Homo sapiens: one gene and its partners. The protein of the gene in region 2 interacts with the protein of the main gene of each other region in a pairwise test. Each region holds a gene or a part of one and is shown on either strand. Other genes may lie near its edges.

Region 1 (7,797 bases), about 120 Mb from region 2:
TGCTAGTCCCTGACACAGCAAGGCCTATGGGGCTGGGCAGCCCTCCTGGATGCCCAGGCTGGTGCAGGCTTTCCAAAGACGACCTTCATCCAGAGTGATTAAAGAGCATGTGGCCTCCTGAGAGCAAAGGGGCCCAGAATGTAGTTTCCTGACATTGCTTGGAGATGCTCACGTGCATGATTATTCATTTGGGAACAAATGGAGAATGATCTCCATGCTGGGAATACTGACTTCGTCCGGGGCATCCCAGAGGGATCCTCTGTTTTAGGGCCAGTTTAGTATGGGCTGAGGAATCAAATAAAAGATATAGTATCTTTTTCTCCACACTCTTTGGCTCCTGGGGCAAATAAACCTTAGGGCAGACACACAGAACTGGATTATTGCTGTTGAAAACAGGCAAGGATTGAGGTTTTTTATGATTTGAGAGGCAGGCTGTTGAAACAGCCCTTGGTTTCTCTTCCCACTTGAGGAAGCTGGAGCTTGGTTCAATCAGAGGGAGTCAGGAGACTGAATTGAAAAATCAGGAAACCAACTCTGGTTCTGGGTCATTTCATTGACTTTCACGGTAAGAGCAACAAGTTATCTACCTGAGAATGGTCATCATCTAGTATATGATTATTAAAAATAATAATGACCGGCCAGGCATGGTGGCTCATGCCTGCAATCCCAGCACTTTGGGAGGCCAAAGCAGGTGGATCACGAGGTCAGGAGTTCAAGATCAGCCTGGTCAATATAGTGAAACCCCCATCTCTACTAAAAATACAAAAATTAGCCGGGCATGGTGGCACATGCCTGCAGTACCAGCTACTCGGGAGGCTGAGGCAGGAGAATCACTTGAACCTGGGAGGTGGAGGTTGCAGTGAGCCAAGATCGTGCTACTGCACTCCAGCTTGGGTGACAGAGCAAGACTCTATCTCAGAAAAAATAATAATGATAATAATGATCACAACACAATAACAATAGTGGTGTCTTCTTTTGCTGGAGGCTTCTTCACTTTTGAGAGCACTGTCATTCATAGTACATCCTGTGTCCCTGGCTGGTAGGTATGGCATTTTACAGATGGGTAAAATAAGACTCAGCATGGGTAGCTGCTTTTCTAAATAGCACACAGTTGAGTATTATGTAACTGTAGGAATTTATATAATGCTTTGAGACACTGGGCTAATATATTGAGACTTATGGGATTACAGCTGTAAAGCTTGTTGTCTGAGTCGACAGGGGCATTCAGAGATGGGTAGAGACTCTGAGTCTCACAGCTTCTACTGTCTTCAAGATAAACTCAGTGCCAGGAGCTTCCCTGTGGCTTCCATAGCTGTGACTTTTAAAGTGTTTGGTCCCAGGCATGCTGACACCAGCCCCTCAGAAAACCTATGCCCTTGGAATGCATGATGAGAGCCAGGAGCAGACGGATCTCCAACAACAGGGGCGCTTGCTGCCTCTTCATCTCCCTCATCTTCTCCCTTCCCCTGGTCTTAAGGAATCCCTTTTCTCCACCAGGAGCATTATTCCCTTGCTTCAACTCCAAGCATCCCCTTCCTACTTCTTTTCCTTTAGGGGTAAGAAGAATCTCTCCCACAACCCCTGATGCCCCTCTCCACCACAGTAGTAAAAATAAGACAGGACTTGGCACACGATTCTATTGTTTTCATAATCTATAAAGGGTACCAATCAGCTGCAGGTCATTGATGGGATAAAACAGCAAACAAATGGATACATGAATGAATGAGAGGATACATAACTAGAAATAAAATATTTAGAATGCAGACAAGTAAAATTCCTGGAAAAACAAGATTGTGGACAATGGCTTACAGCTGAGCTGAGCATGGCATATACTGCTCTGTTGGGTGGAGGGCACATGTGTGCAGGGATGGAAACCTGCTAGAAGGTTCTTGCACCAGCCTGGAGAGGAGGTCCAGGGGCAGGATAAATAAAAAGGAAGGAACAAATGCAAGTGGCTGTGAAGAAGCAAGATTTGGAAACAGACTTACATGGAGACTGATGAGAAGAAGGAGTCAGAGATGGTATGGTTAGTAGAAGTTGGAAATTTAGGAGATAAAGTTTGCAGGTACTGATAGGAATGTGAATTTCAGCACAAAGTGGTTGTGGGATATCCAGGTGGAAATGTTTGCCAGCAAATGAAAATTGACTATTAGCATCTGGGTAGGAAGTCAGGACAGGTGGAATACAGTTAGCGTTTACACAGTCCTTACCGGTTATCATTAATGTCCTTTAATAGGGGCCCTTTGAGGTGGCCTTGTTAAGGAGCCACCCCAGACCAGTGACTTCCATCTCTCTATGCTTTTGCTTTCACTGTTCCACTTCTAGGATGCCGACCTCTGGTTCCCATAAGTGATTAGGTTTTACTCGCCCTTTCCAACTTCCCTTTGATCACAAACCTTCCATGATCCCCCTGGTTGGAATGAATTGCAGTCTTTCAGTAATCCCACAATACTTATATTGAGATTTAGGATTTATGACTCTAGAAAGCAGGGTAATAATACATGGCAATTCAATAGGCTGTGGCTTGCATGAAATAGTTTCTCCATTTGTTGAAAGAATGAGATTGGCACCATTCAACAGCTTCTCTTATTAAAAAAAAAAAAGTGTTTTCCAAAGCTAAGGGATGACTCAGGGTCATGGGGCTGTGGTGAGCGCTTGCATCAGCATCTCTGTATTTTGCTTAGAAGCTTTAGGGGTGGTCCTTATATAACAGACACTCTCAGAGTTGGGAGGGAACGCCTGGTCTGACTGCCCACACAAATGAATGAGCATTATGCCTGCCTGGTGGTTATTCAGCCCCTGCCCGAGCATGTCCGGTGACAGGGAGCTGTGTCCTGCCGGCCTCGATGGCTTGTTAAGGAAGGGCTGAGTGGATGGTTGGGGGAGGATAAACAGTGAAGAGCACAACTTTGCTTTTCCCATTGATTACTCAGTCTGGGGCTTGCTGATGGTATCATATGAGATAGGTTAAATCATGCTATGGCAAAACAACAACAACAACAACAACACTCAACTCTTGGCAGCTTAAAACAACACAAGTTTCTTTACTGCTCACACTCTAGTCCATCATGAGTTGCCTGGGGGCCTCTTTCCTTACTTGTGGCTTCAGGATGATGGAGTACCCACCATCCTAAATGCTTTTTGCTTTGTCAGAGGAAAAGGAAAAGAGACTCTGGAGAATTTTGTATCAGCCGTTAAGTGGTCTGGCCTTCTCTCCACATCACTTCTGCCCACAGCCCATCAGCAGCCCCAACCCCTGAGAGCTGGAAAATGAGACCTTACCACCTTCCAGAAGGCTGAGTGCTGGGTGTGAGTGGAGGCAGCCATAATGGCTATGGTGCAGGCCTCATGCAAATGGCCTGGCTGATTTCCATTTGGTCTAGAAGGAAGAGGTTCCTTACCTCTTCCACATCATTGTGACAAGAAGCAGCTGGTGAAGTAGGCAAGGATCAGTGTGTGTATCAAAAGGTCACTGTCACTCCTAAAAGTCTCTGGATTAATTGGAGGAGCCTCTTCTACTTGTAAGGATCCTGTTCAGTGTTCTAGGCATAAGAGGTCATCTAGAGAAGCCACCTGAAATGGCAGAATAAATTCTTCAGCTTTTTTCCCAACCTCCAAAAGGCTGGAGACCTCCGTGACTAGCTGGCCTGCATTAAGCAGTTTTCCTCTACGTGGAGACAGTGATGAATCCTCCCTGCTTGGAAGGTTGCAGCCTCCACAATAAATCAAGCCCCAAAGAGAGAAGAAGCAGTGGTGATTAAGAGTGGGACCTGAAATCCAAACTGTAATCAGTCAGAGATTTGTCATTGGAATTGGAGATGGAGATGGAGAAATAATGGATGATTCAGGCCCACGGTGGCTGTCTCTAAACATGTTAATTGCCTCAGCTTAAGTGGCTGAAACTGATGATTAGAAAATGTAGAGATGTGCATAGCAGAACTCACAGCCACTGCCTCCCGGGGCTGGCGCACCCAGCTCTGAGAAAGTGGGCTTTCTCTTTGAATGGGAGGGGGTAGGGTGATGCCTTGGCTGGGGGTAGATAGGATTGGTTATCACAGCTCTGAGGTCCTATAAGGAGATACAATAGGGACATGGCGTGCCCCCTCCTGCCAGGTGGTTGAGATTCACAGGGGCTGGTGGTACCTGCTTCACCCACCAAGGGTCACCACCTCTGGAATGATGGCTCCTTTGCTCTGATTCCTCAGGTGATTGCCTGAGAAGTCTAAGGTGAGGGTTAATGCAATTCATCTACACTGGACTTTGAGAATAAAGAAGGTGCCCCATAGTTACAAAATGTCTTACACGTGTGCTGTGCATGTCTTTATTTTTAATGTGTGCGTATGTGTTTCTCCCTCTGTGTCTGCCATCTGGGGTAGTTAGCTCATCTAACTAAATTGAGAGACCAAAGTCATGGTCCATACCCAAATGGGATGGTTTGAGGGAGTTTGTTCTCCACCCAAAGAAATCTTAGTTTGTAACCACAGGCTGCATATCTAATGCCAGCCAGCCATGTTGTAAACATATGCACTTGGTCATTTCAATGCACTTTACCACGTATTTGTTAAGTCTCTCCTAACTGCCATGCATTGTACAAAGGCGCTTTGCAAATGGAAATGAGAAAAGAATAGACGTTGGCTAAGATGGCTTGCAGAATGCTGGACAGAGGAATCTATCTGTATTGGAAGGTGGGAAGAGGATGATGACTCCACAATGGATAGATTATGGAAAGTACCCCTGGGAGGGGGTCAGAAAACATGCTGTGGGGCCCAGAGGTACAGGGGAGGGTGGAGGAACAAGGGACGGTAGGCAGAGCTCCCAATAGAAAGTGTCATTTGAGGCTGGGGACGGTGGCTCGTACCTGTAATCGCAGCACTTTGGGAGGCCGAGGTGGGCAGATCACCTCAGGTCAGGAGTTCAAGACCAATCTAGCCAACATGGTGAAACCCCCTTTCTACTGAAAAATATGAAAATTAGCTGGGCGTGGTAGCAGGCGCCTGTAATGCCAGCTACTTGGGAGGCTGAGGCAGGAGAATTGCTTGAACCCAGGAGGCAGAGGTTAGAGTGAGCCAAGATCACGCCACTGTACTCCAGCCTGGGCAACAGAGTAAGACTATGTCTCCAAAAAAAAAAAAAAAAAAAAAAAGGTAAGTGGCATTTGAGATGGGCCTTGAAGGATGTTTCAAAAGATTTTGATGGGAAGAACAAAGTATTCATGAGAGCCTAAACAATACAAAGTATATTTATATATTATATAAATAAATATATTTAGTAATATGTATCTATATCTCCCTATATAACTGGGTAAAATGGTGCATTTATATCTGTAGCCTTCCCTACTGCTGGTCTAGGTGCCAAATTTCTTCCTTACAGTTACCCTTTAGCTTACAACTTTGATTTCTGATAAAATGAAGTTACCCTTGGGAGCAGCTTTTCAATGATTTTAAGCTCCTTTTACCCATTTATACCTGTGTGGCTGGATTGGAGGTGGGAGAGCTTAGTCTTCCTGCTGGTCACACTTCCCACCATCAGGCCTTTCTTGGTCAGGATCAGTTTCTTCCCTCTTCCCCCAGAGGCTACACTGTCCCTCTTCATCATTGCTAATTGTTGTTTTTCTCGCGTTCCTCTTGCTCCATCCACCATCAGGCAAAATGCCACTGCCTTCTGAGGCTGGCCATTTTTTCCTGACCCTCCTATATTTGTGATAAATGTACATATTCACTTTAGGTTTGTGAGTTACTATAGGAGGATACACAGGGGCCAGAAAAACAAGAGCAGGGCAGTTATGGATTCATTAGAAACCCTTGCAGTATTTCTCCTAGTGGTCCTGCCTTGGGTCAGATGACACATGGGCTGGACCAGCTCTTCCAGTCTTCCCAGTGGCCATCCATGGGTGACCCCTAGGAGCAAGCGTGGTATTCTGTTAATAGTAAGCAGTGCACTGAGGGCTTGTGTCATTTGGGTTTGGGTATAATAAAAAGAGGAGTGCCATAAAAAGAAGAACTTACCAGAAATGGATCTGTGTTGGGGCAGTGGCTCTACGTTGCTGCAGGGAGGGCCTTTGTGTCAACCGTCTGTGAGAGGCAGTGTCCAGGCAGAAGTCAGCTGCCATAGAAGCAGGAGTGGCGTTTTCCTCCTCTAACTCAGGGCCGTGTCTCTGCTCCCTCTTCAGCTGGTGCTGCCAGAATACTCCATCCATAGCCTCTTCTGCATTATGTTCCTGTGTGCGCAAGAGTGGCTCACGCTGGGGCTGAATGTCCCTCTACTTTTCTATCACTTCTGGAGGTAAGTCAGACTGGGACTGGTATATCCTTCGTCTTTTCTGCCAGGGCAGCCTGCTCTCCAGTGATGATGTCACCCAAATAGACAGCTTCTATTGCCTTCCAATCATCCCTTCCTTTCTGGGTCTCTCTCTTTAAAGCCTGTTCCCAAACTGCTCTTAGGCAACAAGTCCAATAAGGAAAGGCCCTTTTTGTTGGTTTCATTAACCACAACCCCATCCCTTGTAGGTCAGTGTTAAAAGCATCTATAGTTGCATTCACAACAGCCAAAGAGTGGAACCAACCCAAATGCCCATCAGCTGATAAATGGAGAAACAAAATATGGTATATCCATACAATGGAATACTATTTGTCAATAAAAAGAAATGAAGTACTGATACATGCTACAACATGAAGCCCTAAAGAAAGTATCAGTGAAAAAAGCCAGACACAAAAGGCCACATATTTCATGATTCTATTTATAGGAAATGTCCAGGAAAGGCAAATCTATAGACAGAAAGTAAATTCATGGCTGCCAGGGGCTGGGAGGGAATGAGAATAGGGAATGACTGCTAATGGGTCAAAGGTTTTCTTTTTAGGGTGATGAAAATGTTCTGAAATTAGATAGTCATGATGGTTGCACAACTCTATGAATATACTAAAAACCACTGAATTGTACAGTTGTACACTTTAAAAGGGTGACTTTTATGGTATGTAAATTATATCTTAATAAAAAAAAAAGCACCTACCAGATGGGCTGGATTTTCTGGGACAGTTATAATTTCATAGATTCTATTCCCTGCTAAGACCATGTGTCAGATCATGTGATTTTTGGCTTTTTGTAAAATAGAGTCACCATATGGACACAGGAGGCAGAGGTGGGGGAATATCTAAATAGTAGAGAAGGTATTTGCGCAGATAAGTTGCCTGCCCTTGACCCTTTGCTGCCAGAGCATTGGACCCCAAAGTGTTTTATCATTTTTATTGTACCATAAAATCTGGCTTGAATTTAGCCACACCTAAGACATGCACTCCTTCATTTAGAAAACATACGGGATACATAGTACACGCCAGGCATTGTGAGGGATTTCACGTTAAGTGTAAAGCAAAACCTTTACCCTTAAGGAACGTACATCCTAGTGGTGGAGGGAAATATGTTCTTAACAGACATATGAGGAATACTGGTAGGAGCATAGAGAAAGAAGCACTTAAATTAGACTCAAGAGTGACATTGGAAAAGCACATTCCAGGGCGAGGGCCCAGCATGTGCAAAGGCCCAGAGTTAAGAGAACACTTGTTGTGTTTGGGAAACAGTAGTTGCTCAGTGAGGTTGGATGTAGGGTTCTTGGAGGGAAATAAGAAGAGACAGGGTTGGCAGGCAGCTGAGAGTATGGTATGGAGGGCCTGAAATGATTTGATGGGGAAGGTGGAATTAATTTATTCTCTAGGTAATGAAAAATGATCAGAAGCTTTAGAAGAAGACAGTGGCATTACCTGATCTGATTTTTAGGAAGGTGGCCTGGGAAGCAGTGTAAAGGAT
Region 2 (8,290 bases):
GCATGATACCCCCAGCTTTGTTCTTTTTGCTTGCAATTACTTTGGTTATTCAGGGTCTTTTGTGGTTCCATATAAATTTTAGGATTTTTTCTATTTCTGTGAAAAATACCATTGGAATTTTTTTTAAGAGGCAAAGTCTTAGTCTGTCACCCTGACTGGGGTCCAGTGGAATAATCATAGGTCACTGCAGCCTCAAACTCCTAGGCTCACACAATCCTCCCACGTCCCAAGTAGCTAGGTGTGTACCACCACACCTGTCTAATTTTGGTACTTTTTGGTAGAGATGGGGTTTCACCATGTTGCCCAAGCTAGTCTTGAACTCCTGGCCTCAAGTGATCCTACCACCTCAGCCTCTCAGCTGGGATTACAGATGTGAGCCACCACAACTGGTTGTTTTGTTCTTGATGTACCTTAAGTACCTAAAACAGTGCCTGAAATATAGCAGGTACTCAGTAAACATCTGATGAATTAACGTGTTTGGATTGTTCTGTGTTGTCACAGAAAGAGGGTTATTTATAACCATATAATAGTAAAAAAAGACAGTCAAAATAATAGGCATTACATTTAATCTGTAGATCACTTTGGGTAGTATGGACATTTTAACAATATTAATTATTCCAATCCAGGAACATAGGATATATTTCCTTTTTTTTTTTTTTGTCATCTTCAATTTCTTTCATCAATGTTTTGTAGTTTTTAGTCTTTCACCTCCTTGGTTAAATTTATCCCTAAGTTTTTTTTGTTTTTTTTTTTTAAGTTTTTTTCTTGTACTATTGTAGATGAAATTTTCTTGATTTCTTTTTTGGATAGTTTGTTGTTAGTGTATATTGTATTTTTATATGTTGATTTTATATTCTGCAACTTTTTTGAATTTATTAGTTTTAACATTTTTGGTGGAGTCTTTAAAGATTAAGGATTTTTATATATAAGCTCATGTCACCTGCAGACAGACAATTTTACCTCTTTCTTTCTGGTTTGGATGCTTTTTGTTTTTATTTCTTTTTCTTACTTAATTGCTCCAGCTAGGACTTCCATTACTATAATGAACAGAAGTGGTGAGAATGGGCATCTTTGTCTTATTCCTGATCTTAGAGGAAAAGGTTTAGCTTTTGACTGTTTGAGTATGATGTTAGCTGTGGGCTTGTCACATATAGCCTTTATTATGTTGAGGTATATCCCTTTTATACCTAATTTATTGAGAGTTTTTATCATGAATGGGTTTATTATGTTGAGGTATATCCCTTTTATACCTAATTTATTGAGAGTTTTTATCATGAATGGGTGTTGAAATTTGTTAAGTGCTTTTTCTGGATTTATCAAGATGATATGATTTCTATCCTTCATTCTATTAATGTGGCATATCTCATTTATTGATTTGCATATGTTGAACCATCCTTGCATTCCACAGATAGATCCTACTTGATCATGGTATATAATCTGTTTAATATGCTGTTGAATTCAGTTTGTTAGTATTTTGTTGAGAATTTTTGCATCTATGTTCATCAGAGATATTGACCTGTAATTTTGTTTTCTTCTAGTGTCCTTGTCTGGTTTTGGTAGCAGGGTAATACCACCCTTATAAAATGAGTTTGGAAGTGTTCCATTCTCTTCAATTTTTGGAAGAGTTTGAGAAGGATCGGTCTTAATTCTTCTTTGAAGAAAGTTTGCTAGAATTCACCATTGAATCCATCAGGTCCTAGGCTTTTCTTGTTGGGAGGTTTTTGATTACTGATTGAGCCTCCTTACTCATATTAGTATGTTCAGATTTTCTATTTCTTCTTCATGATACAGTCTTGGTAAGCTGTATATGTCTAGAAATTCATCCATTTTTTTCTAGATTATCCAATTTGTTGATGTATAGTTGTTCATAGTAGTCTCTTAGGATCCTTTGTTTTTTCTGTAGTATAAGTTATAATGTCTCCTCTTACATTTCTGATTTTACTTGAGTCTTTTCTTTTTTTCTTATTCTAATTAAAAGTTTGTCACTTTTTTATCTTGTCAAAAAAAACAACTCTAAGTTTCATTGATCTTTCCTGTTATTTTTCTAACTTCTATTTCAGTTATTTCTGCTCTGTTATTATTTCCTCCCTTCTGCTAACTTTGGGCTTAGTTTGTTCTTTTTCTAGTTCCTTGAGGTATAAAGTTAAGATTTTTGAGATTTTTCTTTTTTCTTAATGTAGACATTTATCACCATAAACTTTCTTCTTAGAACTGCTTTTGCTGCATCCCTTAAGTTTTAATATGTTGTGTTTCCCTTTTCATTTGTCTCAAGTTTTTTTTATTTCCCTTTGACTCATTGGTTGTTCAAGAATATGTTGTTCAATTTCCACATTCATGTGAATTTTCCAATTTTCCTCCCTTTACTGATTCTAGTTTCATAATGTTGTAGTTGAAAAGAACTTGAGGCCAGGCACACTGGCTCACGCCTATAATCCTTGCACTTTGGGAGGCTGAGGTGGGTGGATCACGAGGTCAGGAGTTCAAGACCAGCCTGGCCGACTTGGTCTCTACTAAAAATACAAAAAAAAAATAGCTGGGCGTGGCAGCGGGTGCCTTTAATCCCAGCTACTCAGGAGGCTGAGGCAGAGAATTGTTTGAACCCGGGAGGCGGAGCTTGCAGTGAGCCAAGATCACGCCACTGCACTCCAGCCCAGGTGACAGAGTGAGACTCCGTCTCAAAAAAAAAAGAAAGGATACTTGAGGTGATTTCAGTCTTACATTTGTTAAGGCTTGTTTTGTGGCCTAACATATGCACTATCCTGGAGAATATTCTCTGTGCACTTGAAAAGAATGTATATTCTGCTGCTATTGGATAGAATGTTCTGTATATGTCTGTTAGGTCCATTTGTATGGTGTTGTTCAAGTTTGCTCTTTCCTTACTGGTTTTCTGTCTGGATGATCTATCATTGAAAGTAAGTATTGAAGTCCCTTACTATTATTGTATTGTCGTCTACCTCTTTCTTCAGTTCTGTTAATGTTTGCTTTATACATTTAGGTGCTCTAATGTTGAGTGCATTTATATTTACCAATGTTATATGCTCTTGATGAATTGACACCTTTATCATTGTGTGGTAACTTTCTTTATCCCTTGTGATAGTTTTTTACTTAAAGTCTATTTTGTCTGATATAAATATAGCCACCCCCGGCTGGACATGGTGGCTCACGCCTGTAATCCCAGCTCTTTGGGAGACCAAGGCGGGCGGATCACGAGGTCAGGAAATCAAGACCGTCCTCACTAACATGGTGAAACCCTGTCTCTACTAAAAATACAAAAAATTAGCCGGGTGTGGTGGCAGGCGCCTGTAGTCCCAGCTACTTGGGAGGCTGAGGCAGGAGAATGGCATGAACCCAGGAGGCAGAGCTTGCAGTGAGCTGAGATGGCACCACCGCACTCCAGCCTGGGTGGCAGAGCGACACTCCGTCTCAAAAATAAATAAATAAATATAGCCACCCCTGCTCTCTTTTGGCTACCATTTGAGTGGAATATCTTTTTTTTATCTCTACTTTTAGCCTATGTGTCCTCTTACACACATAGGCCTTTACAGATGGCTTCAGCAGGGGAAGCCCTTACCAGGTAGCTCATCCAGAGATTCTTGGGGGGGCAACTGACAGGTTCTGCAGGTAGGTGGGCCTGGTGCCTTGGTCTTTGGGGGTAGCTTGGAGGCTGGGTCCTCTGCGGCAGGCCTGGCAGTGGAATCCACTAGGGTGGACCTTTTAAGTGGGTCTTCAGGTGAAACACCTGGAGCCCGGTAAGTAGATCTGCAGGAGCCAGCCTGGTGCAGGGGTGGGCCCTACCCTGAGCCTGCAGGGGCTGGCCTGATGCAGGGGTCCACTTGGCTGGGTCTGTGAGAGTGGACCTGGAGCCTTTAAGTTTCTTAAAGACAAGACTGGATCTTATTTCGAACCACCATCACATCTTGTACGGTGTCTGAAGTATATCAGGTGCTTATCAAGTTTATTTGTGTAGAGTCAGCCTTTAAACATTGTTCAGAGGCTTTGATGTAATGCAAAAATAAAATAAACGGAGACAGGTTACCCATGAGGAAATATTTGCTTCCAGATATTGTAGTACATTTCAGAATCAAGAGTATGCCACTGAGCTACAACTCAACAACAAACAAATAGCCTGAATAAAAAATAGGCAAAGAACTTGTATAGACATTTCTCCAAACACAATATAGAAGTGACTAACAAGCATATAAAAAGAGGCTCAGCATCACTAATCATTAGGAAAATGCAAGTCAAAACCACAATGAGGTATCTCCTCACACAGATTAGGGTGGCTACTATTTTAAAAAGTGTTGGCAAGGATATGGAGAAATTGGAGCCCTGGTGCACTTTTGGTGAAAATGTAAAATGGTGCAGCTGCTACAGAAAACAGCATAGTAGTTCCTAAAAAAAATTAAAAATAGGATTATCATATCCAGCAATTCCACTTCTGGATTATACATCCAAAAGAGTTGAAAGCAGGTTCTCAAAAAGATATTTGTACAACCATGTACATAGCAACATTATTCATGATAGCCAAAAGGTAGAAGCAACTTGTGTCTATTGACAGATAAATGAGTAAATAAAGTGTGGGGTGTGTGTGGATACAGATACACACACACACTTAAATAATATTTAGCCTTTAAAAGGGAGGAAATTCTGACATATGCTATTAATACAACATGGATGAGCCTTGAGGACATTATGCCAAGTGAAATAAGTCAGACACAAAATGACAAATATTATGTGATTCTACTTATATGAGCTACCTAGAGTAGCCAACACAAAGTAATATGGTAAAAATCATAGAAAACACAAAGTAAAATGGTAGTTTCCAGGAGCTGGGAGGAGGAAGAAGTAGGTAACAGTTGCTTAATTGGTGATTGTATTTTATAAGATGAAAAAGTTTAGAGATGTGGTTGTACAACAATGTGAATATACTTAACACTACTGAACTATACACCTAAATAGTAAATAAATAGTTAAGATAGTACTTTTACCTAGGTCTGGGTTAACTTAAAGCTTTATTGGAAGGGTTTTGTGAAATGATTAAAGAAATTGTATCTTTATCTTTGGTTCTAATCTACGCTTTTGTTTCTTTTCACAGTGCAGCCTTCATATTCATGCTTCCTACAGCATCTCCCAGAAACTGAATGTTCCAATGGCCCCACTCTCAGAGCCGAATGCCGTAGGCATTGTCATTGCTCATGGTAAGGAACCTCCCACTCACCACCTCCAACTGGAACAGTGGCTGAGCACACTGAAACTCAGCCAACAGGCTTTGAACGCTCTGAGAAGAAACAATGTGGATGCTTTTACATTCCTTTGGTAGAATTTCTTACATTATAACAACACTTTGGGTTTTTCATCAACTTTTATCAGAGAGAGCAACACAACTTCTCCGAAGTTTTTGGTGGTTTTCTTTCCTACTAAAAGAGGCTTGATGGGAAATAATCAGAATAAATTCATTCAACATTATTCTCTCTGGAGTAAATGCTCTCTGTTTCATTGCCTATTTGTGCTAATGAGATGGTGGATTATATTGCAGGTAGCGTGGGGGATGCCATCTCAGTGATGGTTCCAGATGTGTACATCTCAGATGATGGGGGTTACTCCTGGACAAAGATGCTGGAAGGACCCCACTATTACACCATCCTGGATTCTGGAGGCATCATTGTGGCCATTGAGCACAGCAGCCGTCCTATCAATGTGATTAAGTATGCATGAACTCATCTCACACACACTGTCTGCATAGAGGGCAACTGGGGGAATGTTCTTCAGTTTATTGGGGGGATGTTACAGACTATAATTCAAATTTTTGCATTTGACAGAACTATAGATAAGATTCTAGAAAGGATTGCTTTTAATTGGCAACTCAGATTAAATGGCATTGTTTTTTCTTCTGACTGCCTTTAGCTAACATATTTGTCACTTCTTAAAAACATTCTTTCTGGGTTGGGCGCAGTGGCTCATGCCTGTAATCCCAGCATTTTGGGAGGCCAAAGCAGGAGGATCGCTTGAGGCCAGGAGTTCAAGACCAGCCTGGGCAACATAGGGAGACCTTGTCCCTTGTCTCTAATATTATTTCAATCAAAAAAAAAACCATATATATATATATGTGTGTGTGTATATATGTATGTGTGTGTGTGTATATATATGTGTATATATATGTATATATATGTGTATATATATGTGTATGTGTGTATATATGTGTGTATATATATGTGTGTGTGTGTGTGTATGTATATATATATATATATATATATATATATATATATATTCTTTCTGTCTACAAAATTATTATGGAAGCGTTCAAGCACTCTAGATTGAAAATGACTTCTTAAGTACAAGTTCTGAGCTGGGTGCAGAGGCACACACCTGTAATCCCAGCACTTTGAGAGGCCAAGGTGGGTGGATTGCTTGAGCCCAAGAGTTCAAGACCAGCCTGGGCAATGTGACAAAACCCTGTCTCCACAAAAAAAAAAAAAGAAAAATTAGCTGGGCGTGGTGGTGCACGCCTTTGGTTCCAGCTACTTGGGAGGCCGAGGTGGGAGGATCACCTGAGGAGGTCAAGGCCACAGTGAGCTGAGATCGTACCACTGCACTCCAGCCTGGGTGACAGAGTGAGATCCCGTCTCAAAAAAAAAAAAAAAAGAAGTATAAGTTCTTATAAAATAATTTGATTGTTATTTATTTATTTATTTATTGAGATGGAGTTTTGCTCTTGTCACCCAGGCTGGAGTGCAATGGTGCAATCTTGGCTCACTGCAACCTCTGCCTCCCAGGTTCAAATGATTCTTGCGTCTCAGTCACCTGAGCAGCTGAGATTACAGGCATGCACCACCACACCCAGCTAATTTTTGTGGTTTTTTGTTTTGCTTTGTTTTTTGTGTTTTGGTAGAGACGGGGTTTTGTTGTGTTGGTCAGGCTGGTCTCGAACTCCTAACCTCAGGTGATTCACCTGCCTCAGCCTCCCAAAATTCTGGGATTACAGGCGTGAGCCACCACAGCCAGCCTTAAATTTATTAATTTAAAAGCCAGTTCTTACCTGGGTCACTCTCCTGTCTTTCCTTTGAAATAATTTCTGTAAAGGTATTTACTTTCATATTCTCTCTGAACAAATCTCTTCCTTATCCTGTTAACTACAGACGTTAAAAGTTAAAATAGTTGGCTGGGTGCGGTGGCTCACGCCTATAATCCCAGCACTTTGGGAGGCCAAGGTGGGAAGATTACCTGAGGTCAGGAGTTCAAGACCAGCCTGCCCAACATGTGAAACTCCATTTCTACTAAAAATACAAAAATTAGCTGGTGTGGTGGCACGTTCCTGTAATCCCAGCTACTCAGGAGGCTGAGGCATGAGAGAGAATCACTTGAACCCAGGAGGCAGAGGTTGCAGTGAGTCGAGATCGCGCCACTGCACTCCAGCCCGGTGACAGAGTGAGACTCCATCTCAGAAAAAAAAAAAAAAAAAAAAAAAGTTAAAATAATTGTCAGCCAATAAGCCACCACCTAAATGTAAGGGGTTTTGTCTGGTTTGGGATCAAAAAGCCAGAGTGGTTTTCTGAATTCCCAGTACACATTGATCCTCTGTCATGATCTTTCTGTAATTGTGGTTTCAGGTTCTCCACAGACGAAGGTCAATGCTGGCAAACCTACACGTTCACCAGGGACCCCATCTATTTCACTGGCCTAGCTTCAGAACCTGGAGCTAGGTCCATGAATATCAGCATTTGGGGCTTCACAGAATCTTTCCTGACCAGCCAGTGGGTCTCCTACACCATTGATTTTAAAGATATCCTTGAAAGGAACTGTGAGTGTCTCCTTTGACCTTTTCTACCAGAAACTTCCAAGTCCATTTTCCTAAATAATCAATATGGTTTAATTTCTTTTAGCTGGAATCAGCAGATGCATATGCATATGAAAGAGGATTGACAGATGTTCTGTGTGGGTGATTAAGTAATGGAATGGCATCAGAAAAACAACCTCCTCCTCGGTGCTAGCACTGTCCAGGAGAAATATGAGGGCCACATATGTCATTTAAATTATTCTGTCAGCTATATTATAAAAGTAAAAAGAAAGGTGATATTAATAAAATAAACTTAATATATCCAAAATATTATCATTTCAACATTAAGCAATATTAACGGCCCAGAAAATAGGTTCAGAAAAGGATTCACAATGTTCATTGCACAGTGTTTCCAAAGTGTCACAAGCAAACCCTAACCTCACTGCCAAACAAAGATGCTGGCATTATGCTAAGAAATAAGGGGAATGGCCAGGCGCGGTGGCTCATGCCTGTAAT
Region 3 (7,797 bases), on a different chromosome or scaffold from region 2:
CTTAAGGATGTTGTCCATTTCAGTATAAAAGATATGATGCTTACAATTTCTTTTACTGGTATTTAGGAAAAGGAAATATTTGAAATATAAATTCGTGTGCCCCAAACTAATACAACTCAATTCATTTAAATTCACAGATGAATCATATATTGACCAAGTGACCAAACGTAAAGAAATTAAAGTTTAGATTTTTCCTTTTGCCCTAGAGGTTGAACTCTCTTCCAAAGCTGCTTTTGGTGCATTTAATGGGCACCAAAAAATAGCAGTTGAAGAGTAAACATCATTCCTCCCCTAGTTCTTAGTTGTGGCTATAATTTATTATTAGCATATTAGCAGGTTAAGGGGAGCAATTTTGATTCCCATCAGGTATAACAAAATAATCTGGTGAAAAACGGAGGTCATGTTTGTCAAGTCAGAAAAGTGGGGCCTTTTCTTTTTAATGTTAAAACTTCAAATTTTACACGTAATAGCCTATTCTCTCAGCAAAAGCAAATAGCAAGTTACCTGTTTTTTGATGAGAGCCTAATTACATCCTGTTTCATTCTATTTAGGTAGATGAAAATGCTTGAATAGGCGAGTTTTATGTTAACCTTCAATTTATGGATTTAATATATTCTTAGTTGAACCAGATAAAACGCACAATGTCAATGAAATTACTTCAGCTTACAACCATTTATAAAGTATCACTGTTTTCATGTAAATCTGTGATAATGTAGCTATAAAATAATACATTTATAAAAATCAATACATAAAAATACAAATTTCTGTATAAATCTTGTAGTATTAAGGCTCTGTCAATTAAAATCTATAAAATCTATAAATCTTGTAGTATTAAAGCTCTGTCAATTAAAATCTATAAAGGATGTTTTTTATCCTTGATAAGTCATCTGAAGAAAAGTCAGAGAAAAAATTATTTTTTTCTAGAAAGAAGAACATTAAAGGGGATTTAATCTCAACCAGAGAGGCATGAAGTACAATTACTTTTATAAAACAATTTTAAAATAATTGAAATAGTGTCTTTTTGGAACAGAGATAAACAGGTCAAGTGAATGGAACAGAACAGAAATTCCAGAGATAAAGCCAAATCTACATAAGAACATAGGCATTGTGTGTCATGGGGAAATTACAAATGGGTTTTTAAAAATACATGACAACAGTGAAATCACTGGAAGAGAAAATCTACTAAATATCTAACCTGGAGGTGGAAAAATACTTCTCAAGTATACAAGGAGAGTGATAGAAAAATACATAGACTATATAGGCATTAGTCTAAAATTCTAAAATTCAAAAAGCACCCTACACTAACAAAATTAAAAGCAAATAATGTACAATAAATACATTTCTTTTTACATTAGAAATGGTTAATATCCTTAAAACGTGAAGGGGTCTTACAAGTCAAGATAGGCCAACTCGAATGGTCAAAAGACAATTTACATAAAAAGGCAAAAGAAAAAAAAACCACTTGTGAAAAAAATCCAATCTCAATAATAAAGGCATATTAAAATAAGATACCTTTTCAAACTCTTAAAATTGAAACTTAAAAAAATTAACAATTGGTGCCATGGAACTTCTGAGAAAAATATAAAATTGGTAAAAAAATTTTTAAAATCCATTTTTAAAAACATGCACATCCTTTAATTAATCATTTCCACTTTAAAAAAAAGAAGTCTATCTTAAAGACATAGACATGGACTGTTCAAACATTTCTAAGATAGTCTATTGTGCTAAGTATGCAAATTGGAACTAGTCTGGGTCCAGCAATAGGCAACCCATTAAACAGGTTATAAATCATGACATTTTAAAAACCAGACTAGGCAGGCATAAACAATTTTTTATAAAGAATATTTAATAATAAGGGGAAATATTCACCACGTAAGTGAAGAGATATGCTATAAATACTAGCATTCTAAATATTTAATGCCAAAAAATGTGTCTTAAGTCATCTGGAATAGAAACTAAAATATCATCAATGTTTACACTGGGTAGTGAGATGGACTGGAACTTGGTCTCTTTGCGCTTTTCTATAATTTTCCAAATTTTTACAACATATACTATTTTAAGAAAAAGTTATAAAACTACTATATATTAAAATTATTTAAAATATAGCACACCTGTATCTTTGACAATTAACTCCATTTCTTGAAATTTACCCTAATGACATAATAATAGGGAAACTTTAAAGGTGAGCCCATAACTGCTGATGAACCATAAAAATGCTATTGAAGAATATTAATGCTAGGAAAAACAATTTCAGAATGTTAAAAAACAAAACATAAAAGTATAAAAAATGTTACATATGATGTGATTCTAATTTCATGACAATATATGTGTGATAAACATTTACATATAAAACCAGGAAGGAGGCAAAGTAAAAACAAAAATTGTTAGTTGTGTTTACCTGGTAGTTTGATTACTTTGCTCTATGTTACAGATTTTTTTTTAATGAAAATGTATTGCTTTTATAATTACAAATTATAGTTCCAAAAAGTTCTGTAAAGTTTACATACTTGGTTGCTCCATCATCGTATGTTCCCATTAAAACTATTGTTCCATCTTGTATGGCCTTCAGAAACTCAATAAATGGTGCCACATCTGAAGAAAAAGAAAGGGTTTAGGGTTTTAAAAAATGACTGAATAAGCATCACGATAATCTCTGAAAGTAGTATTATAAAACATGAAGTATCTGTAAAGCAATAATTTCCAATGTAAAGTAATCCAAAAGACAGACAAATCTCATAAAGAGTTTAAAAACTGTTAAATTTGTCCCTTAACATAATCCCACTATCAACTTACAATTTCCCATTCCTGATTTATCCTGTGTCTTTCGTATTGATATTCCTGGGGCTAAGTGAAAAAAATCATAGCAAAGTAAAGCATGACTTACGAAGTAAGAAATTCAGAGATCTCTCAGATTTGAATAATTGGGATCCTGAAAACCTTATTCTGGGGTCCATGCATAAGCTTAAGGAGGCATGGGAGGTGTGTGGACTCCTTAAGTGTATGTAAAATTGTATGGGCTGAGCACAGTGACTCACATCTGTAATCCCAGCACCTTGGGAGGTCAGGGCTGGGGGATGGCTTGAGCCCAGGAGCTTGAAACCAGCCTGGGCAATATAGTGAGACCTCATCTCAACAAAAAAATTTAAAAATTAGCCGAGCTTGGTGGCACATGCCTGTAGTCCTAGCTACTCAGGAAGTTGAGGCAGGAGAACTGCTTTGAGGCCAGGAGGTGGAGGTTGCGGTGAGCTGAGATCACACCACTGCACTCTAGCCTGGTTGACACAGCAAGACCCTGTCTCAAAAACAAAACAAAAAAACAAAAACGAAACGAAAAAAAGCATAACAATGTTTGTATGGGTACTTTACTAGAAAGAGGATACACAGCTTTTCTCCGATTCTCAAAGATATCTGTAATTTTTAGAAAATCTAAAAATACATATACACACAGATTTAAAGGCTATTTTAGGTATATCATTTGCTATAAACTGGGAGAAGGAATATGTTAGGTGATCACTAAAAGCCAAACTAATTGTAGCAAATATTACAGTCATTACTCATTTGATCTACCAAATCAAAATCCACAAGGACTTCAAAATAAACCACTTCAATGACTATAAACTGTTGATGCCAGATACATAGGTCAGATTCTAAAAACCACTTGACATCTTGAACTCTTTACAATGTCTGGGTTCCTTATAGCTCTGAAGTCTAATTCTACTCCAAAACTGGGTTACTTCAAATGTACTCAGTTTCTTTCCACAGCAAAGATGCCAAAGATTTTCGATAACTGATTATATTTCATAATAATAGCATTTTCAATTCAAAAAGATATAACAAGGCAGCTAACAAACTACTTCCATTTAAATGCAAAAGTGGCAATAAACTGCAACAATTTCCTAACTAGAAGAATGCTGCTAGCGGTAATTAATCTACCTGTGACAAGAGAAGTAAGGAATACCAGAGCTCCTGGTCACATGACTGATTTCAACAACAGCTTTGTAAGACTCTTTCTATCAATAAATTTTGGCAGGACCAATTTATGCCTTTAGAATCTAAAATTGATGGTCCCATTTTAAGTTTATACAGCTTTGACAGCTATGCAATGTTGTCCTAACATTATTTAATAACAAAATAATACACGGCATCTTTTGTTTTTTTGAGACGGAGTCTGGCTCTGTCGCCCAGGCTGGAGTGCAGTGGCAAGATCTCGGCTCACCGCAACTTCTGCCTCCCCGGTTCAAGGGATTCTCCTGCTTCGGCCTCCCAAGGAGTAGCTGGAACTAAAGGTGCATGCCACCATGCCCGGCTAATTTTTGTATTTTTAGTAGAGACGGGGTTTCGCTGTGTTAGCCAGGATGGTCTCCATCTCCTGACGTCGTGATCTGCCTGCCTCGGCCTCCCGAAGTGCTGGGATTACAGGCGTGAGCCACCACGTCCGGCTACATACCATCTTATTACAAGCTGAAGATATGTTGGAAAAGCTAAATTATCTGAGAACTCTTAACATGAATTTCAGGAAGCCTAATAGCTGTTGGCTTCTAGGGAATATATAAATGGAATGGGGAGGTGCAGGGGAGATCCTCATACTGATCAATCTCCCAAATTAAAGAATCAAAAGATAAACCAGTGTTGGCCTCCCTTCAAACTGGAGGAAAAAAACCCATTCTTCCGGGCAGCGTTCTTCTTTGGGGTGCCAGTCCCTTGCCTCTGCGTGCTGGTAACTTCTTCCCACTCCTTGTGGGACTTCCAAATATGGAAGGGGAAAATATCTGTGGATTGCTTTACAAGAAAGAAAATTCTATTTCTTCCCTCAAATATTCATCTACCTAAAAAATTAGCTGCAAGTCAGAGGGTAGAACTGTGATGAATAATAGGACTGCTGTTCTAAAACTGATAGTTTATCTTGTCTTTCTAATGCTCCTAATGCTCCTAATGATTTATTTTTGAGACTAAAAAATCACATTTAAAAAAAAATCAATTCCTATCACTTAGGAATGCTTACATTGGTTATTCTGGTCTTCAAATTACTTTTTTTTTTTAAATTTTAGACACACTTAAAGGAGCCCAAAACTTTTGAATTGGTTGTCCTGTAGAAAACAAGATGACTTTTTTTAAAAAAATCTCAATTTTGATATTACTATCTTCAATTATACACCACAAAAATTTTTTTCTAAGAAGAAGAAAGTATATAAAACATGAATGATAACTTAAATACAGCTGGACATTTAGTGAACAGAAAGTAAGGGAAACAAAATGAACTAACGCAAATAGCATCATCATTCTCTCATTAATGGGCTACATTGTATTGAGGTGATTAAGTCAGTGCCAGCAAAAGAACACAGTCATGTTATTTATGCTTACCTCCTCCCCACATGTCAAAATATTTAGTGTCTAATACTTCTCCTGTTTTTCCTAAAAGAGATTAAATTCATATCAAATTATGCATCTGAAATATATCATACACTGTAAGACCAATAATCTCATCCAATGATTGATGTGAATTCATTAGCAGAGAAGATGTGAATTCATTAGCATTAGAGAGATGTGAATTCATCTCAAAGAATTACTTTGAGAACTTAAAATCTGAATCATATGCACCTGAAATATATTTTTAAAGGGTAATTTCTTAATAGAACTTTCTCATTAATCTTTTAAGCCGAAGGATAAATAGAAGTTCATTACTGACTGTAGACCATTCCAATTCGGTTAGATATATTTCATCGTTGTTTCCATATTCTCTTATTTTAAAATTACTCAAAAGTAAACCTTTTACAAAAAAGAAGTATCTCCTTGAATCAGATGCCATTTTCTACATTAAATCAGTTTTTACAATAAAACTTACATTAACTTGCCCTATAAAATGTATTTTTTGCTATTAATGAAATAGACAGATGTTGAACCTTTTACCTAAGGAAATGAAGAAAGCAGAAGAACAAAAATTTACCTCTTGCTGTGAAAGTAGTAAAATATATTTTTCTACACTATGAAACTACAGTGGTTTCTAACCATCCTATATATCTTATAACCATCCTACATAGCTTTATGGAATACTTATTGTACCAGAACAGAGAGGATCAATATGCAGTTAGGCCTCACTTTATGGTTTTATGTTTTCAGATTTGATTTTGAAGGAAAATTTGAGATGTTCAGGATTCAATCAACTTATTCATACTAATTAAGCTATCAGAAGAATGTGGCTGATAATGAAAAATTACAATACATTCTTATTCTTTGTTCCTCCCCCTACACCATCCTTTGTCATTTCATACGCCTTTAATCCTGTCAACCTATCTTCCTATTATGTTAGGATTCCAAAATTTGAAGCAAGATTTTATCAATGTGATGTTAGACTGCTTGGTTTCTGACAATCTCATGGAAGCTCTTGCATAGCAAGTTAGGATACTTTCAAGAAACACGCTATAAATTCTTAGACACCAAGTCTCCACCCATAGATTTTTTGCAGGGCAGGGATGGGACAGAGGGCTTTATCATCAAGAGCAGTACTTTCTAACCTGATCCTCTGATAGTGCATTTTACTTTGGGACAGAAAAATACCCAATGATTACATCCATAAGCTAAAATAATTGTTCTTACCATTTGCCAAGGCAACATTGATCCCTCTTCCAACATTATTCTTAACACCACTCATTAAACTGAAGGGGGAGAAATTGAAATAAATTTAGAATTAAATATTGTACAATAACATATCAGAAAAATAAAGTCTTGCAAAAAAAGTTAGGAATATTATACATATTTTCAATTGTTCAGTGCTGCGGAGGAAATTAAAAAGATCTCTACTAAGTCAGAGAAGACAGTCTAATACTGAATAATTTTAAAGCAATGTCCTTAAATAATATTTCACAAATAGAAATACATATTAAAAAATATTAGGCCTGAAATAATAGACCATTTTTGTGCTACACTGCTTCAGATTATTCTTAAAACATGGACATTAAGCATATGTTCTGCATCATTCTTAAGGTATCAAACAAAAGATAATCTCTTTTCTGCTCTCTTCAATACCAGCGTGACATGAAACAGAAGCGAGATACTACCCCCATCATTTAAATCTAAAAGCAAACAGAGTGGGGGAGCACTCTTTCATGAATGTTTTACCTAATTGTGAACATTCTCCTAGTGATTATCACTGTAAAGTTCGTCTACACTAAGAAATATTGCACTCATGAAATCACTGCATTGAATGACAGTCACTTACGTGGTGACTACCTGAAATAATCGACTTCCATGGGCAGCTCACAGACCACTATATAAAGACAATGACACTGTAAAATGGAAGGTACCAGTGACAAATTTGCTGGTTATCAGTTCAGTTTGTTCAATTGCTCAAATTAGAATTATTAAACTAAAATTGTGAGTTCTTTTAACTCAAAACTTCAAGGTAATAGTAATACTCCCAGTGGTGTGCTGTTAACTATTTAACAACTGCTCTGTGTTTAGGAGAGAGAGGCAATATGCACATATGTGACTACACGTGCACACACTTGTCCTTATATAGACAGAATTATATATACACATAGGTACACAATTTATTATAAACTACTAAAAGATGTATAGCACACAATTTCATAAATAAAATCTACGATGTACTTTATTATAAATCTCAGTCGATTCTCACAGAGTATTTTAGTTGATTTTTCAAACAATTCACATCTGCAGCTGAACTATGGTTGCAATTGATGAATGAGCTCAGTTCTAACAAACGTTGGATCTATGTTAATAAGATAAAATAAAGAAAAACAAATAATGGAGATTCATGTTCAAATTCCACTTGCCTGT

The links. Proteins that work in one complex are often made in the same cells at the same time.
Region 1: the proteins of SORT1 (region 2) and CNIH3 interact in binary tests that used the Homo sapiens proteins (3 or more experiments, as listed by UniProt).
Region 3: the proteins of SORT1 (region 2) and FAM3C interact in binary tests that used the Homo sapiens proteins (3 or more experiments, as listed by UniProt).

Annotation. Positions count from the first base shown.
Region 1 is NC_000001.11:224,724,293-224,732,089, forward strand, and holds part of CNIH3 (protein cornichon homolog 3), read left to right. Parts: intron 1-1,631; exon of another isoform or gene 1,632-3,573; intron 3,574-6,005; exon of another isoform or gene 6,006-6,169; coding exon 6,170-6,282; exon of another isoform or gene 6,283-6,300; intron 6,301-7,797. UniProt on the Homo sapiens protein: Regulates the trafficking and gating properties of AMPA-selective glutamate receptors (AMPARs).
Region 2 is NC_000001.11:109,324,407-109,332,696, reverse strand, and holds part of SORT1 (sortilin isoform 1 preproprotein), read left to right. Parts: intron 1-5,095; coding exon 5,096-5,198; intron 5,199-5,536; coding exon 5,537-5,705; intron 5,706-7,607; coding exon 7,608-7,798; intron 7,799-8,290.
Region 3 is NC_000007.14:121,357,536-121,365,332, forward strand, and holds part of FAM3C (protein FAM3C precursor), read right to left. Parts: intron 6,654-7,797; coding exon 6,595-6,653; intron 5,413-6,594; coding exon 5,362-5,412; intron 2,593-5,361; coding exon 2,508-2,592; intron 1-2,507. UniProt on the Homo sapiens protein: May be involved in retinal laminar formation. Promotes epithelial to mesenchymal transition.